Regions from separate parts of the Homo sapiens genome. Here region 2 is linked to region 1. Evidence: fine-mapped expression QTL. Tissue or cell type: whole blood. Region 1 holds a variant in brackets; the other region holds the start of a gene. All regions are shown on one strand. Distances are from middle to middle.

What was found. PIP is the estimated chance that this variant, and not a neighbour inherited with it, causes the effect.
Region 2: it holds the start of FIGNL1, and the variant in region 1 is the best candidate, but not a certain one, in a credible set for the expression of FIGNL1 in whole blood (INTERVAL, PIP 0.65).

What each region holds. Positions count from the first base shown.
Region 1 is chr7:50,422,020-50,430,976 of GRCh38, reverse strand. No RefSeq gene overlaps it. Among named protein-coding and RNA genes, the nearest start is that of FIGNL1, 24 kb to the left of the region's middle. The variant A/G (reference allele first, on the strand shown) is at 4,094.
Region 2 is chr7:50,445,811-50,454,767 of GRCh38, reverse strand. It overlaps FIGNL1 (fidgetin like 1), which reads left to right and starts at 4,418. Exons shown (of 4, transcript NM_001287492.4): 1 at 4,418-4,467; 2 at 5,045-5,650; 3 at 6,479-6,587; 4 at 7,471-8,957. The coding sequence starts at 7,481. RefSeq lists silencers at 4,272-4,461, 4,603-4,897 and an enhancer at 7,218-8,417.

The DNA.
Region 1 (8,957 bases):
AATTAATTTTTATTTATTTTTTTGAGACAAAGTCTTGTTCTGTCGCTCAGGCTGGAGTGCAGTGGCGCGATCTTGGCTCACTGCAACCTTTGCCTCCCAGGTTCAAGCGATTCTCCTGCCTCAGCCTCCCAAGTAGCTGGGACTACAGATGCCCGCCACCCATGCCCAGCTAATTTTTGTATTTTTAGTAGAGACAGGGTTTTGCCAAGTTGGCCAGACTTATCTCGAACTCCTGACCTCAGGTGATCCGCCTGCCTCGGCCTCCCAAACTGCTGGGATTACAGCCTATGTTTTATTTTTCATAAAGATAATGTTCTCTACTTTTTACTATAAAGTCAATAAAATATTTCATTGAATAAATAATAAAGCAAATAAATAACAAGTAAATAACATAATATTAAATAAATAATACTTTATTGTCTTTTTAAAATAAACAACTACAACTCAGAAAATTTATGTTTATGAAATCTCACCTTGAGACTACAGTGAAAAGTTTCCTTATGGATCTCTGCAGTATGCTTCCACCACAGATTCTTCTAAAGATTAGAGCAATCTTAATTTAAAACAGATTTAATGCATATAATAAAAGTTTAATTATTGTAATATATACTCATTGAAGAAAATCTGAAAAGTTCACAATGCAAAATGGAGAAGAAAACAGACACAATTCTACAACTCAGAATGTTCTGGTGTATTTATCTCCTAATCATCCTTTCTGTTTACACACACAAACACATAGCATAATATATTTTAATAAAGCTAGAATTACACTGTAGTTACAATCATCATTAAAACATCTCTATGTACTATATGCAGAACTCAACATTCCTAATAACTCTTCAGGGGTGCGTAGTTTTCCATTGAGTGGGTGTACCATGCTTTCTCAACTGGTCCCTGGATGTTCCACTGTTGTAGAGGACAAGATCTTTAGGTGTTGAGAAAATTCTTATAAGAACAGCAGAGAACCATATGGGCTTAAGAGAAATAAGAAGTTGATAGCCTTAACAAGACCTCCAGAAGTTTATTTTTGTTAGCACCTTAGTTCCTGGGTGTTTTCTAGGGATCAGCAGCACCCTCATCACTGGAGACCCAGCCCAGGCCCACTGCCTCAAGGATCTGCATGTTAACAAGATCCCCCTGGTAATTCCAGCGCATGTGACAGTGTGAGAAGCTCTGGCTTCATGCAACAGAGGAAAGGGTGTAACTAGAAAACTCTCAGCAATATTTCAAAATAGTACAAAAAGCAGTCTATGGGTATGATTCTTGAAATCATTTCAAGTCATAATATTGTTCACAAATACATCAGGCTAAATTTAAGAAATGGGATTTGGGGTTTGGAACAACTCAGAGTAAAGTTAGGTTGAAATAGAAGCGATAACCATCTTGGAAGTAGATTTTTTATCAGTCAAACCTTCAAATCTGTGTTTTGTGATTTCTTTCTTTCCATTTAGAAAGACTTCTCCTAGCCAGGGGTGAGATATCCTGTATATCTCTTGTATTTAAGTTCCCACCTTTTTGTCTAGATATCTTTTGTGTTTAATATGATGAGGCACTAATTGATTTTTTTCTAGTAGCGTACTGATTTTAAAGAATCATGAATTGCATAGTTATGCTTTTTCCTGTTTGTTTTTTATCTACTTGTTCTTTTGAATCAGCTCTCAAAGTGTGGTTCACAGATCTCTGTGTTCCTTAAGCCCCTTTCAGGGGATATGCAACGTTAAAACCCAGATATTACTTGCTTTCCCCTGTGTTCATATGCACAGTGATGGTGAAAAAGCAGTGGTGGGTAACACTACTGGTGCCTGAATCACCACCGTGACTCCACACTATGCTGGTAGCCAGTGTATTTCTCATTGCAACACATTCCCAGTTTTTTAAAAATTCCAGTTTTACTTAAGAATGTCCTTGATGAAGCAGTGGAAGTTGTTAGTTTTTTTTTAATAATCTCAATCCATGAGTAAACATCTGGTATTTTGTGAGACAAAATGGGAAGTAGACATAAAGCAAATCTATAGCATATCACAGTACCTGTTTTCTCGAGGCAAAGCACTTGAACAATTATTTGAATTACAAGCTAATCTAGCCACTTCTTTGATGGAACACCATTTTTACTGAAAAGAATGACAGGTACACTATGTTTATTCACACTTGTGTTTTTGGCAAAGATTTTCTTGTAAGTGAATGGCATGAGCCTGTCACTTCAAGCAGAACAACTGAATAGTTCTTCAAAATATAAAATTTAAGTTTCCAAAGAAGAATTGGAATTTTAGGAAGCTTTTCATTGTGAGCAGCTTCCCAATACTTCAGGACATTTCTGATGAGATTAGCGGTGAACAGATTTTGATGTGGCCTCTACAATCCCTGCTTCCTGGGGCTCACGCCTTTTGACAGTCCCTCTCTTGAATGGGGTGGATACTTGTGACTTTCGTCTAGACTACAGCATGCAGCAAAAGTCATCGGCTGTCAGTCCCATGATTGTGTTGTCTAAGACTTGATCTTGCTAGAACATTCACTCTCACTCTCCCGCTGGCCTTGAAGAAGCAAGCTGCTGTGTTGTGAATTGCCTGCTGTGAGAGCCACAAGGTGGGACAGCCTCTAGGAGCTGAGGGCCACATCCAGGCAGCAGGGAGCAAAACCCGGAAATTTTCAGTCATATAATCACAAACAAATGAATTCTGCCAGCCACCCGAGTAAGCTTGGAAATGGAGCCTTTCCCAGTTGATCTTCCAGAAGAGAATGCAGCCTGAATGGCACCTTGAATGCACCCTAGTAAGACTCTGAAACAGAATCCAGCCAGGCTATGTCTAGACTCCAAACACATAGACGCTGTGTGATTTTAAGCTGCTAAGTCGGTGGTAATTTGTTATGTAACACTAGATAACTAATACAGATTTTGGTATCTAGAAGTGGTTGGGGGCTGTCACAAATCCCTACAAATGGGGCAGTGGCTTTGGAAGCAGGCCATGGTCGGGGGCTGGAAGAATTTTGAGGAGTGTAATAGACAATGCCTAAAGAATCTTGGACAGACTGTTATTAGCTATGGAGACTTTGGCACTGTCATTGGGATCTCTAAAGAAAAGGAGAAGCACGTTATTAGATACTGGAAGAAGCAGAATCTTATTATATAGTGGCAAAACGCTCAATGAAACTGTCTCCTGAAATTCTGTGAAAAGCTGAACTTGTAAATGATTAACTTAGCTATATAGTGAAAGGGATTTTCAAGCAAAGTGTTGAAGGTGCTGCCTGGTTTCTTTTTGCTGCTTATAGTAAAATGTAAGGGCATAGGTATATTGACAGAATAACTGTGCATAAAACAGAACCATGACTTGAGGACTTTGAAAATTCTTTAGCATCACCAAATGGCAATGATGCCAACATGAAGAGATTTATTGTCAGGAAAATGCACTCTGGGAGAAAAGCAGAGGGTGTAACTATACAACCATTTGCCAAAATCTTAGAAGGAATATAAGCTCAGAATATTCACTCACACAAAATACCTTTCAGTGCTTCACAGACCCTCTCAATAAATTAGCGGGCCTCTGGGAAGCTTAAGGGCACTATCTGTCTTTCATGCCCAGGGGGCCAAGGTGGAGGAGGTATTATTACAAAAAGGTCTGTGGATGTGACTTGTGTCCAATGGAGTGAACCCATTAAAATCCACAGAAAGCCCATAGAATATTTGAGAAAACTGTTTCAGCAGAAACATCACAAGCTTAGACTAATGGGGACAGACAGAGTAAAACAAAAGGCCACTTCAGACTCCCAAATTCTACTGGCAGGACAAAGGCTGATAAAACTTCTCACCTGCAAATGCCTTTTAGGAAAATGGAAGGATGACCCAGAGGGCAGCGTTAAAACTCAGAAGGCAAAGCCAAGAGCCACAGGTCATTTATTCTAAGGGCTTAAAGCTTAATCAAGAAACCCAACATTCTCCTGCCTGGATTTCAGAACTGTAATGGATTGGTGACTCTTTTGTACGTCCCGGGTATGAGAATGTGTATAGCTGTTATCCTCTGCCTGTCCACCTGTGTGTACAGGGTGAGATGGGGGCAGATCATTCTTCTCTTTTGTTTCCCAGGTCCACAGATCAAGG[A/G]AGGGTGGGCCCCAGGAACTATACTTATCTGGACCTGGACTTGATGATAAGATTGTGGACTTTGTGCCGACACCTGAATGGGCAGAGACATTGGGGAACCTTGGGAAGCATGAATATCTTTTACATGTGTCATGGATGTGAATCACTGGGGGCCAGAGGGTGGACTCTGGCAGACTCTAAGGTGGTCCCTGCAAACCTTGCCTTCTGTTCATGTTTCTGTGTAATCTCCTCGCCTTGAGGGTGTTTGGAACTTGGGACTTTCTGCTAATGAACAGAATTTAGAAGTGATAGGGTCTCACTTCTGTGACTAATTTACCAAAAGACTGTAGCTTCTGGCTTGTTCATCCTCTCTTGCTCTTTCACTCACTCTGATTTGCACCTGCTGCCATAATGGGAGCTGCCCTGTGGAGAGGCCCATGTGGCAAGGAACAGAGGGAGGCCTCGGGCCCAACAATCATAAAATGAGCTTAGAAGTGAACCCTCAGCTAGCTGAGTCTTCAGATAAGACCTCAGCCCAAGCTGAGGCCTTGTGAGACACCTTGAGCCAGAAAACAAAGCTAAATGCACCTAGATTCCTGACCCACAGAAATGGTTAGATAATAAATATCTCATGTTTTAAACTACTAAGTTTTTGAATAAATTTTATGTAGCAGTAAATAGTAAGGCCAGTAAAATGATATTTCTAGCACACTTGAGTTTGTGGCCCAAAATTCAAACATACTGCCCTATTTGTGAGTTCACTGCTAACCATATGTATTTACCCCTAAAAATCTCATAGTGAAAGAAAGACATGGTTTACCTCCATAGATTCCTGAGTGTCCTTCCAATAGCTATTGTTTGTGTAAAAACTTAGAGATCCTACTGCTTATTGGAAACTTGCTAGTTCATGCACCTTTTTTTGTCTGATTAAAATATCTCCTGCCTTCTTCATCTTAAAATAATTTTTTATTTTGAAAATTTCAGACACAGAAGTTGCAAATATAAGACGGAGTTCTTTAGTACCCTTCAGCCACTTGCCCCCAGTGATAACATTGTATACAAGCATAATACATTATCAACATCATCTGATTCCTTTTTTGAATAGAAAAACAATTCTATTTAGTAGATCTATTAGTAGGCTTTCACCCTACATGGAAAGTCTTTCTTATATTGGAACTTTTCAAGAAATGTGGCTGCAGATCTATCTAGTACTATCTAGAGGGCAGGGCCCTCAGATCCCGACCCGCAAAATGAGCCTCAGTGGGAATCTATACTTGCCAACCAACATGAACATAGCAATAAAATGATCCATTCGTCAGGGCCTTGACGAGGCCTGCGCCCCAGATTGTGCTCAGCTCCCAAGCTGCTGAGAGCTTTGGGGGGTAGCAGGTGTGGGGAGCAGGTGGCTCTACCAAAATAACAGCAGCAGCAGCAACAGCAACAATGACAACAGATAAAGTAGAGTCCCAGGAAGAAGGGAGGCACTGTTATTTGAATTACATTACTAAAGTGATAATAAATGTCACTTCAATAATGTGTCCAGTGATAATAAATGCCACTTCAATAATGTGTCCGTGGACATTCTAAGCATCAGACTTCATGTGAGCATGACTGTAGTTCTTTCAGCTAAATTACGGATTCTCTTTGCTTCACATCTCTCACGATAGGCAAACAAGCTTAACCATAATTTCCAAGTTTAAAATCCTATAGAGATGTTTCACTTAAGATTAAGCATGTTTTCAATCTCACCAGCACAAACTCTGGCAAAAACACAATGAACAGTAACTGTGGCAAAGCAAAATAATTAGATACCATTAAGGAAATAATCTACTTAGAAGATGGGTGATAACAATTTTTTCAGATCCAGCTGTGGCTGTGCTGCCTAACATAGCAGCCGCTATCCACGTATGGCTATTTAACATAAATCTATTAAAATTAAATAAAATTAAAAATCTGTCCCTCAGTTGCACTGGCCACATTCAGGAGCACACGTAGCTAGCGACTTTCATACTGGGCAGTACAGATATAGAACATTTCTTTTACCACAAATAATTTTCCTGGACAGCATCAACTTGCAGGATGCAAGAATCTGAAAGGGGCTAAGAGAAAAGAAAAAATAACAAGGCACATGAAGTGAGATATGAAATGCAGCAGAGCTCTCTCAATATCATTAAATGTCAGAATGATATTTAGATGTATATTATCAGATAACTCACCAATTATCTCAGCAAAAATTTTTGAATAATCTTCCTTTCCCCACTGATATTTCTAATGCCTCCTTTATTAGTCTTAGGGGACTCTGGGCAATCCCACCCTTTGGCAACTGGAATCGTGGCCACTCGCTATGTGAACATTTTTCTTATTTGAAGGAAAGATGGACTCGGAATGCTGCCACTAGGAAAACATGGCACGATGAGCCCTGGGTGGTTCTCGTCACAAGAAGCCCTTTTGTATAGCGAAAATAATATGATCTGATACGATACATGATATGACATGCCACAGGGAAGACTGCTTGAATGACAGGTTCAGCACAGGGACTCTGTACTGCCAGCATTTGCCCACAAAAAGGACAGACTCTCCCCTTCGAGCTTCATGGGCAAGGCAAGAGGGTGGCACTGCTTCCAATTCTCCCTCAAGTGTGTGGGCTCAGGACCCTCTCATGAGATGCCAAAGCACCGTCAACACCAAGCTATGGAGTTTAACAGACTTTGTGGAAATTCTATGGTTCATAGAGATAAGTTATTTTGCATTCAATGGAAACCATAAAATGATATAGGACATAATACTGTTCCTCAAGTTAACTGACCACAGACTGGAAGGGAGTCTCCCAGAGGCCTCTGGGGACATCTCAGCCAGATGACGCCCAGCCTCAGTGTTACAGAAGGCTGCTCATCTTACAACACAGGACCTTCAGCCTCGTCCTCCTGCCTAGAGCTCAGACCCAATTGCTTCAAGCCCCCAAAGAATCCTTCACCCCACAGTAAAAGTTCTTCCCTCCCTGCTTGGGGTGACTGCAGTCCGAACAGTTTCTCCTTTCAGGAGAATCTTCCACTCCAGGAGCCAGGCAAAACCATGGGGAAGGCTGCAGAATGACTGGCCTTGAAGCTATGCACTATTTACTTTGGGGGTGGGCTGAAGATGATGGATACAGCTACCCTAGCTGCACCTGCTGTCCCCACTGCTCCCAAAGCAAAAGAAGAAGTTGACTTGAGAAATTTCAGCATCCACACAAAATACAGAAACCGCTGGCACTCTCCCACATCATCAGTCTCCACTAGCGGAAACCCTACTAGTCATCTATTACATTAATCATAATAGCTAATACTTATCGGGTGCTTACTGTGTTGCAGGCACGTGTTAAGCTCTTGATATGCATTAAAAGATTTGATCAGCACAACACTCCTATGAAGCAGGTACTATTATGGCAAAGTCTAATTTTCAGAGTTGAAACTTGACTCTGACAAACACTGGACTAGTGTCCTAGGGCTGTGGTGACAAATGACCAGCACAATAGAAATCTCTTCCCCCACAGCTCTGGAGGCCAGAAGTCCAACCTCAGGCTGTCGACAGGCCACACTCCTGTTGGTGGTTCCCAGTGCTCCTCCGCCTGCCACAGCGCCATTCCAGTCTTGGCCTCTGTCTTCACATGACCTTCTTCCCCTGAGACTCCGTATCTGTCTGTGTCACTCCCTTTTCCTATAAGGACACCAGTCTTTGGATCGAGGGCCCACCCTAAATCCAGAATGATTTCCTCGTGATATCCTTAATAACCTCTGCGAAGACCCTACTTCCAAATAAGGTCACGTTCTGAGGATCCTGGTGGATGTGAATTTTCAGGGACATTGTGCAATCCACAACACATAAAAATAGTGAGGAATCATCAGAAATTATTTAATGAGTTCATGAGGGGATCAGCAGGATGTCAAGTTGAGGAAAAGAGCACTTGAGAGGCTGAGTGTGTACATGTAGCTGGGAGGGGAATGCCGGAGCAGGTTTGCTAAGTTAGCAACAAAGCCTGTGAATGTCTTCAGGTCAATAAAGTGTCACTTTTGGGGTTATCTTCACTACTGGGCAGAAATCATTTGTATCTTTACAGGACAAATGTACATGCATATAAGCAACTTCACAGAATCTAGGGCCAAGTCAACGGCAATGCAGGTTAAACACAAATAGATTGTCCTAGAGAATTAAAGGGTCCTTGGGTGGGTCTGTTAGCCTGTGTCCCAGTATGACATTAAAAGGACACACCCAATCATTCTCTTTTCTGTTTTGGATCATTTTTCTTAACAATTTTTATCCCCATCTTACAGATGAGAGGTTTGGTTGCCTAATAATTATATCAGTGATTCAGCCAATGGATTCAAGCTCAAAACCCAAGCCTGAATTTAGAGCTAAAATCTTTGCCAAATATATTTCCTCAGCTCTTTGGTTTTGAGACTTCTTGCATTAGGTGTTCATTATTTATTTTTGTCTATAATATTCACAGAGTGAAGCAGAAGCAAAGTTCTTTGTATCATGAAATAAGAACTACTATCGCGTTTTGACTTGAGAATTAACATGAAATACACACAATATGACTCAGTTCCTGGCTTTAAAGTGAATGTATACAGGAAATCTTGCATTTTTGGATAAACATTTGAGATTTTGGCCATTTGTGAGGACCCAAATTTCAGGACAGGAAGTGCTGTTAGCTGTGCTGAGGCCTGGATTTTATGGGCATGTTGTGTGTGCTGGCCAGTCTTTCAGCCTAAAAGGGGAGCCTAGTATAAAAGATGCCATCAGCTTCTCTAATCTCTGCTCCTCATTACTCAGGATCTCAGCAGGGTGTATTTGTGGTGGTATTTGTGAAGCTGGGGATCTGTAAATCTCCCCTGGCCCAAATTGC
Region 2 (8,957 bases), 24 kb before region 1:
TCTTTTCCTTTTCTTTATAAGGACACCAATCAATCAGATGAGGGCCCACCCTAATCCAGAAGGACCTCATCTTAACTGGATTATGGCTGTAACAACCCTCTTTCCAAATAAGGCCACATTCACAGGTGCCAGGGGTTAGGGCTTCAACATATCTGTTTGGGGGATGCAATTCAACCCCTTACATACTGTACCAAACTGGAGGCACCTAGAAGTGTTGACTCCAATTGGTAGCGCAGTCCTTGAGGAAAATGACGACCCAAGCAAATGTTTCCTTCAATCTCTGCTCTACCCCGTTTCAGGTGCTATAGAAAAATTACGGGAGGGCATTGTTTTAGAGTGAGCTCCTGCACTAGGTCCCAACAGACCAAACTAAAGTGGAGTCACTCATGCTAAGTGCCATTTAACCAAGCTGAAACTTTAAGAAAGCTGGTGGTCCCCAAATAGACCAGTTTTTCTTGAAAACAAGAGTCACAGCAACCCATCAGAAAGAGTTCAGTCTGCCTGAGTCAGAGTAATAAGGAAGTCCCATTTGCTTTAACCATGACGAGAAAAGTAGTCTGAATTAAGCTGACACTAACCAATCAACCTTTAAAATAATACTGTTTCCTTGTTCCCACCTTACAAAACCACTGTTCTGCCATTCCCCAGTGGGAACTCTAATTCTATTTTATAGAATGGAGGCTACTGGATTCATGAATCATGAATAAAAGCCAATTTGATCTGTAAATAATTTTGTCTTTTGACACCAGGAGAACACCACCTCCCCCCTCACCAGCTGTGTTTATGACAATGATGCCAGAGGTAGCCTCTTCACATCCCTTTATGATTCATTCAGTATGGCCAATGAAAATCTTTTACTAAAATTGTGCACTTGCTTCACCCTGGGCTCACACATCTTACTCCTCTGCTGGAGGGCTAGAACACCATCCCCTCAATCCTGGTACTTTTTTCTTCCTTACCACTGAGTCAGGGAGCTGAGAGGTTTGGAAGTCAGTGGGAATCCACACAGAGAAAGAACTGGATTTAGATTGGGCTGTTTTCCCTCTGAGCTTTGTCCTGTTGGCTTCCCTATCTCCTCAACACCACCTGCCTCCCGCACCCACCGACACACACATCTCCAGAATGTAACTCTCCTGGCTGACAGGGAAGCACATTATTTAGGGCCGTATTATCCCCTCTGCTCAAAAACAAATGAGCTCACCGAAGTGTACACTTGCATTTATCTGAGACCATGTTTATAAAATTCATGAATATGGAAATGGGCAGCCATCTCCCAGAATCCCTCACACCAAGAGAACTGGCACTGTCTGCTGTAGGTGAAAACCTCTTCCCTTGAAGGCTCAACAACTTCTACCCAGAAGAAGAAAAGAACAGCATATTCTTTCTCATACACACACACAAACACACACACACACACACACGCACACAGTATATACCACCAGTCTGTGGTCTTGGAAGCAAAGTTTAATAATTGAATAGCTCAAGCACTAAACTCTTACATATTATTAAGATACTATCCTAATATGTCTCATTTGTCAAAGATGGAAAAGTTTTGATATGACATAAGGGTTTCAATCCCAATAGGAATATTAATGGTAACAATAAAAATAACATAGCAACACGGTTTCTGTTGAATGCCTGCCACATGCCAGCAACTGCTTTGATAATTAAAGAATTATATCTTATGTTGATTATAATCCTTATAATGGCTTCCTGGGTAAGAAAGGTTTATTACTGTTTTACATTTGAGGAGGAGACTAGGGTTCAGAGAGGGTGCAGAAGTGAGTTACACTTTTGCCAACCAGGCCAGAAGATGAAAGCCGCTGGATTGGGAAATGCTTTTGTATCAAAAGCACAAAATGAAGTGGCTAGTGTTACTTGTTGGAAAAAAATTAACTTTGGCAAGCATAAATATAATTCAGTATTTGAGCAATACTTTTAGGAGGGTAACAGAGTGGTTTATGTGAATTCTCCAAAATGCCATCATGAAAATTTTGATGATGAAAATCACCTAAAATTGCTAATTACCTGTCTTAGCCTGTCTAGGGCTACAAAGTACCATATGCTGAGTGGCTCATAAACAATAGAAATTTATTTCTCACAGTGGAGGCTGGAAGTCAGAGTGCCAGAATGGTCGAGTTCTGGTGAGGGCTCTTCCAGGTTGCTGTCAACTCTTTGCATCCTTAGGTGGTGGCAAGAGGGCTAGAAAGTTCTTTGGAGTCTCTTTTATTGTATTTTATTTTTTGGAGACAGTCTCACTCCGTCCCCCAGGCTGGAGTGCAGTGGCGCGATCTCAGTTCACTGCAACCTCCACCTCCTGGGTTCAAGCAATTCTCAGGCCTCAGCCTCCTAAGTAGCTGGGATTACAGGTGCCCACCACAACACCTGGCTAATTTTTGTATTTTTAGTAGAGACAGGGTTTTGCCATGTTGGCCAGGCTGGTCTCGAACTCCTGACCCCAGGCGATCCACCTGCCTCGGCCTCCCAAAGTGCTGGGATTACAGGCATGAGACACTGCACCCAGCCTCTGGAGTCTCTTTTATAAGGATACTTACTATTCTCATCCATGAAGTCTCCACTCTCATGACCTAATCACCTCACAAAGGCCCCGCCCCTTAAAACCATCACATTGGGCTTAGGATTTCAACATACAAATTTTGGGGGGACATAAACTTTCCATCCCTAACATTACCCAAATAGTATCTATATAGTCATTTCTAAATATACACGTATTTAGAAATTTCTAAATAGCCAGTAAACATACAACTGACTTGGCCTTGATATAACTGTTTTCATTTTCTTTTATTTTCATTCTACATGACATATTTTGGGTAATTATAAAATAATTAAAATTAGTTGATAAAGTATGGAATTAGAATAAAATAATTTTCTATTACTATCTAAGCCATGAAATGAATTAGGAGATGCTGTTTTCAGTGAAACGTCTTCTAGTTTTTAAAGTGCATTGTCCAATTCCTTTTTATTTTGTGAAGATTTTAAAAACTTAAAAAAAGTCTTCAAATTGTTTGTGCCTTGCATTTCTTTAAATCTTATGTTTAAACATCATGTGCTGCTAGTTGCTAGTCATTTTCTCTATCCCCTGCCCCAGACCCTCTCTTTCTCAGGAAAGGATATCCAGGGATCCGGGTCCCAGTTAGTCAAGGAGATATAAGAGGAAGGCTATGAGGCTTTCTGGGAAACATTTTCTTTTTCCAAGAGAGAAGTGTTCAGAGGGAAAAGGTCCTTTCTCAGTTTGGCTCCCTCTTTGTGTTTTAGATCTGGTCATGTGAGGCTGCCTGGCTTGGATTGTGAGGGCATCTCTCGACAATGAAGTGACAAGCCTGGGGAGGAAAATCCACAGGCGAGAAGGTGGCAGAATGGAGAGATGGTCCTTCATGACTTCTTTGAGTCACCAGGTCCAGATTTCCCGCCAACCTCCAGTCTTCTTGTTATGTGATCTGATATCATTATTTACTGCAGAGGCCACTGAGTGGATGCTCTTACTTGTGTCTGAAAATCCAATTCACTAAATTAATCAAAATACGGCACTCTTCTTTTGAAACCTTGCTCCAGAACAAAGTGGAAGGTAATGATGGGGTGCTTTTCAAAGTTCCAGGGAGGTGTCCCTACACAGCAGACAGCTGTCCAAAGGAATGTAGATGTTGGCTGCGGGGAGATCTGAGTTGCCAGACTCAGTCAGAACAGGTGTCCTCTCCCTTATTTTATCTTAAACATGCATGTCATTTTTGCATGCTACTCTATGCGGTTCTTTCAGCCAGGGAACATTGCTGAGCACCCGCTCACGTGCTGTATGGAGCGCAGACTGCAGGGTGCGAGGGGCGGAGGTGATGTGCTAGGCCTGAATTCAAGAGGGGGCGCAGCCACAGGCCCCGCGATGCCGGGGTGGCCTCTTGTAACGACGTTTTAACCGCTGACCTAAGTGGATCCGCTCCTCTCCCGCCGCCCGCTCCCTGCCTGCAGCACAGGATGGCGGCTGGCTTTCCCGAGTGGGCGCAGGTGAGCCACGCTTGCTCTCCCGGGTGGGCGCAGGTGAGCCATTGTTTGCTCTCCCGGGTGGGCGCAGGAGAGCCACGCTTTGCTCTCCCAGGTGAGCCGCCGCTCGCTGTCCCGGTGAGGGGAAGTGAGCCACGCTCTATGGGAATCCTTCGAATCTTCATTCAATTTCCATCGCCTCCTTGTATTTATTTGGGAGTACTTTTAAAAATGAAGCCTATGCACAATGATGTAATAAGCGTTTATAGAACACCACTGGTCGGAGCTAGGGCCTAGGTGGCGGTGCCCGGGCCCAGGTGCCGCGCCCACGCCCCGCGCGCCGAACGCACGCACGCACGCACTCACGCACTCACGCACGCACGTACGGCGCGAGTCCGAGGGCGACAGCAGCGCGCAGGCGCACGTCAGTCCCCGCGCTTTTCGGAGGCTGCCAGCGTCCCACACCAGCCGCAGGTAGGATGCGGTGACGGGAGGCGGGGCAGGGGCGCTGCTGACCCCTGTGGAGCATCAGGGTTGGGGCGTAGGGGAGAGGCGGGCGTGTGCCTCTGGAATGCTGGGGGTCGCGGGGCGGTGACTTCGCGGGAGGCCGTGGGAGGCGGGAGCCAGGCAGTGGCTGTGCCCTTTTGCTTCTGTCTTAGCGGGAGGGTGGCTGACCCGCTAGCCCAGAACCAGACTCATCCAGGATTAGGAAGCTGGGGCCCGGCGTGGACGGCAGGCTCGGGGCCAGGTCTGCGGGCGGCTTCCTTTGGCAGAGCCTGTCCGGGGGCGGGGCCGCTTACCGCAGGCATTTACTGGGCCCAGCGGGGCTCTGGGCGCCCACAGCGGGGGTCAGTCAGTTCCCCTGTGACCCAGGCAAGCTCTTAATCTCTGTGATGAGAAAGAAGGGCTCATACCTTTCAGGGGTCATCGTGAGGAATCAGAAGAAGCAGTATTTTATAGAGTATTTTCTAAGTGCTGAGTCCTCTGTCTAGTGCTTTGCAGAATTAAAATACCTTGTCAGCTCAGTGATGTTGCTGCGCTTCTTTTATAGGTGAAAACCGGCAGAAAGACATTAAGAGATTTTCCTGCAGTCACTGCTGGCAGATGATAGAGCCAGGATTTGAAAGCAGGCAGCCTGGCTCCAGACCCTGTGCTCTTAACTCCCGTTTTGCATCAAGAACAGAATCCTATGAAAGGCTTGCACAGTGCTTGGTACTGAGTAGGCACTCCGTCAGTATTTTAGTAGCTATTATTCCAAAGGACACTGTATTCTAGGTACTAAGACAATGTGAATGGAATGGAAAACAATTCCTCCCTGCAGAAGCCAACTGTCTAGGAAGACAGATAATGACATTATTAAAATAATCAGAACATTGGCAAAATAAAGAAGATTGAAATGCAGTTCATATGACAGTGCTAATTAATCATACTTTTTAGATCTAGGAAAGGCCATAAAGGTTAAATTGACTTGGAAATGGTAAACAAGACAATGGTTGTGTCACTGATCGGTGATGGCCAGTTTTTGGTTATCCTTATTTGCCATTTAAATGATTGAATTGAAAGGAAGAAGTAAGACTTGGAAGATGAATATTGAAGGAAAGGTGAAGATGGAAAAGAGAAGGGGGTTTATTCTGAGAACAGTGACTAGAACTCTGAGGTATGGTAGAAATTTCAGGATAACAGATGATAAAGGGGAATGAAGCCATGGAGAGGAAGAGAATGATAATATTAATTGTGAAAGTTTGTGTCAAGTGTTTTCTGAGTCACCTTTCTTTCAGTTTCTCATTTCTAGTATTGTATAAATGAGTTTAACATCAAAATGGTATAGTGAAAAAAAGGATGAACTGCTTGACAGAAGAGGTCAGATCTAGTTTTGACTCTAGCTTATTTAGCTTTACAGCTTTAAATAAATTACAGTGTCTTTAAAGCTCTGGATCTTAAGTTTTCTAATTGTTTTTTAAACAAAGATTTGTGAACACCTACTTACAATGTGACAAATGTCTTTGTAAGGCATTATGGGAGATAAAAGCTGCATTAAACCTGGCTGTTGTACTTACAAGTAATTTGGAAGGCAAAATTTCAAATACTTGAACCTAAAGTAGGGTTTCTTGGTTTTCATTTAATTGAAATACTGTTAGGAAACAAAAATTTTTCATAAATTTTTCTTGTGGATATGTAAGTAAATTCTATATATCTAGCAATATGATACATCTATAGTTCTGTTTAAAGGTAACAATGTGAGGAAGCTTATGCGAATAACTTGACAGAAGAAATCTAAAGTAAAAGCATTTTCCTAGTAGGCTAGCTTGTTCTCTTATTTCATTTATTGTAACAGTTTCACTTTTTAATAATTATGTGAAATTAGGAAACAGATATTCTAGGGCATTCTGTTTAGGGTGATGAACTTATTCATGAATGTTATTAAAACCATTTAAATATGCCATAGTTTAAATTTGTGATCCATGCTGTTCAATCTGTGACCTAGGATAGCAGCATCAAGGAGCATTGTGTACATGCAGAAGTGCACAGTACCTGGAGTGAAACTGCTTGTGTTCGATTTCTGATACCATTCATAACTGGCTGTGTGATCTCAAGTAAGTTCTTTAAGTCTCTCAGCCTCGGTTTGTACATTTGTGTGATAAGGATAATGATAGTTTTCAGATTATTTTCATAGTCATTGCTTGATTTGATTCTTCCAATGGTTCCTCTCACTTTGCAGATAAGAAAACTGAAGAACCAGCTGGGCGCGGTAGCTCACGCCTGTAATCCCAGCACTTTGGGAGGCTGAGGCGGGTGGATTACCTGAGGTCAGGAGTTCAAGACCAGCCTGACTAACATGGCGAAACCCCATCTCTACTAAAAATATAAAAATTATCCAGGGGTGGTGGCAGGTGCCTGTAATCCCAGCTACTTGGGAAGCTGGGGCAGGAGAAGCACTTGAACCCGCGAGGTGGAGGTTGCAGTGAGCTGAGAGCGCCACTGCCCTCCAGCAGCCTGGGTGACAGAGCGAGACACTGTCTCAAAAAAAAATAATAATAAAATAAAAATAAACCATCAGTGATAGTAAAAAGCTCACTTAAGCTCATTCACCTAGTTTTATAGATCAGACTTAAACCTCTTGTTTATTTTGTTTTGCTTTATGTATCTATAGTTCCATTGTTTTTAAAATTTAAAATTAATTTTAAACCTTATGAATGCTTTCCCTACAGATAAAATTATGTAACTAGAACAATTTAACTCATATAAATTATTATTTAATCAAGTCCTTAATTTTGAAGACTTCATATTGATATGTCTTGAATACTTGAAATCTATAGTTAACTAGATATTTCTCTTATAACCTGTCCTTATAAATCTACATTATAAATAAAAAGTCCAGTGTCCCTTCCTTCAGATTAGCAGAAGTTTCAAAATTACATTTAAAGTATTTTCTTTGTTTTCCTTCATACTGATTTTCATTTTTATTGTTTGTTATAGAACCTCTAAAATGCAGACCTCCAGCTCTAGATCTGTGCACCTGAGTGAATGGCAGAAGAATTACTTCGCAATTACATCTGGCATATGTACCGGACCGAAGGCAGATGCATACCGTGCACAGATATTACGCATTCAGTATGCATGGGCAAACTCTGAGATTTCCCAGGTCTGTGCTACCAAACTGTTCAAAAAATATGCAGAGAAATATTCTGCAATTATTGATTCTGACAATGTTGAATCTGGGTTGAATAATTATGCAGAAAACATTTTAACTTTGGCAGGATCTCAACAAACAGATAGTGACAAGTGGCAGTCTGGATTGTCAATAAATAATGTTTTCAAAATGAGTAGTGTACAGAAGATGATGCAAGCTGGCAAAAAATTCAAAGACTCTCTGTTGGAACCTGCTCTTGCATCAGTGGTAATCCATAAGGAGGCCACTGTCTTTGATCTTCCTAAATTTAGTGTTTGTGGTAGTTCTCAAGAGAGTGACTCATTACCTAACTCAGCTCATGATCGAGACCGGACCCAAGACTTCCCGGAGAGCAATCGTTTGAAACTCCTTCAGAATGCCCAGCCACCTATGGTGACTAACACTGCTAGGACTTGTCCTACATTCTCAGCACCTGTAGGTGAGTCAGCTACTGCAAAATTCCATGTCACACCATTGTTTGGAAATGTCAAAAAGGAAAATCACAGCTCTGCAAAAGAAAACATAGGACTTAATGTGTTCTTATCTAACCAGTCTTGTTTTCCTGCTGCCTGTGAAAATCCACAGAGGAAGTCTTTTTATGGTTCTGGCACCATTGATGCACTTTCCAATCCAATACTGAATAAGGCTTGTAGTAAAACAGAAGATAATGGCCCAAAGGAGGATAGCAGCCTGCCTACATTTAAAACTGCAAAAGAACAATTATGGGTAGATCAGCAAAAAAAGTACCACCAACCTCAGCGTGCATCAGGGTCTTCATATGGTGGTGTAAAAAAGTCTCTAGGAGCTAGTAGATCCCGAGGGATACTTGGAAAGTTTGTTCCTCCTATACCCAAGCAAGATGGGGGAGAGCAGAATGGAGGAATGCAATGTAAGCCTTATGGGGCAGGACCTACAGAACCAGCACATCCAGTTGATGAGCGTCTGAAGAACTTGGAGCCAAAGATGATTGAACTTATTATGAATGAGATTATGGATCATGGACCTCCAGTAAATTGGGAAGATATTGCAGGAGTAGAATTTGCTAAAGCCACCATAAAGGAAATAGTTGTGTGGCCCATGTTGAGGCCAGACATCTTTACTGGTTTAAGGGGACCCCCTAAAGGAATTTTGCTCTTTGGTCCTCCTGGGACTGGTAAAACTCTAATTGGCAAGTGCATTGCTAGTCAGTCTGGGGCAACATTCTTTAGCATCTCTGCTTCATCCTTAACTTCTAAATGGGTAGGTGAGGGGGAGAAAATGGTCCGTGCATTGTTTGCTGTTGCAAGGTGTCAGC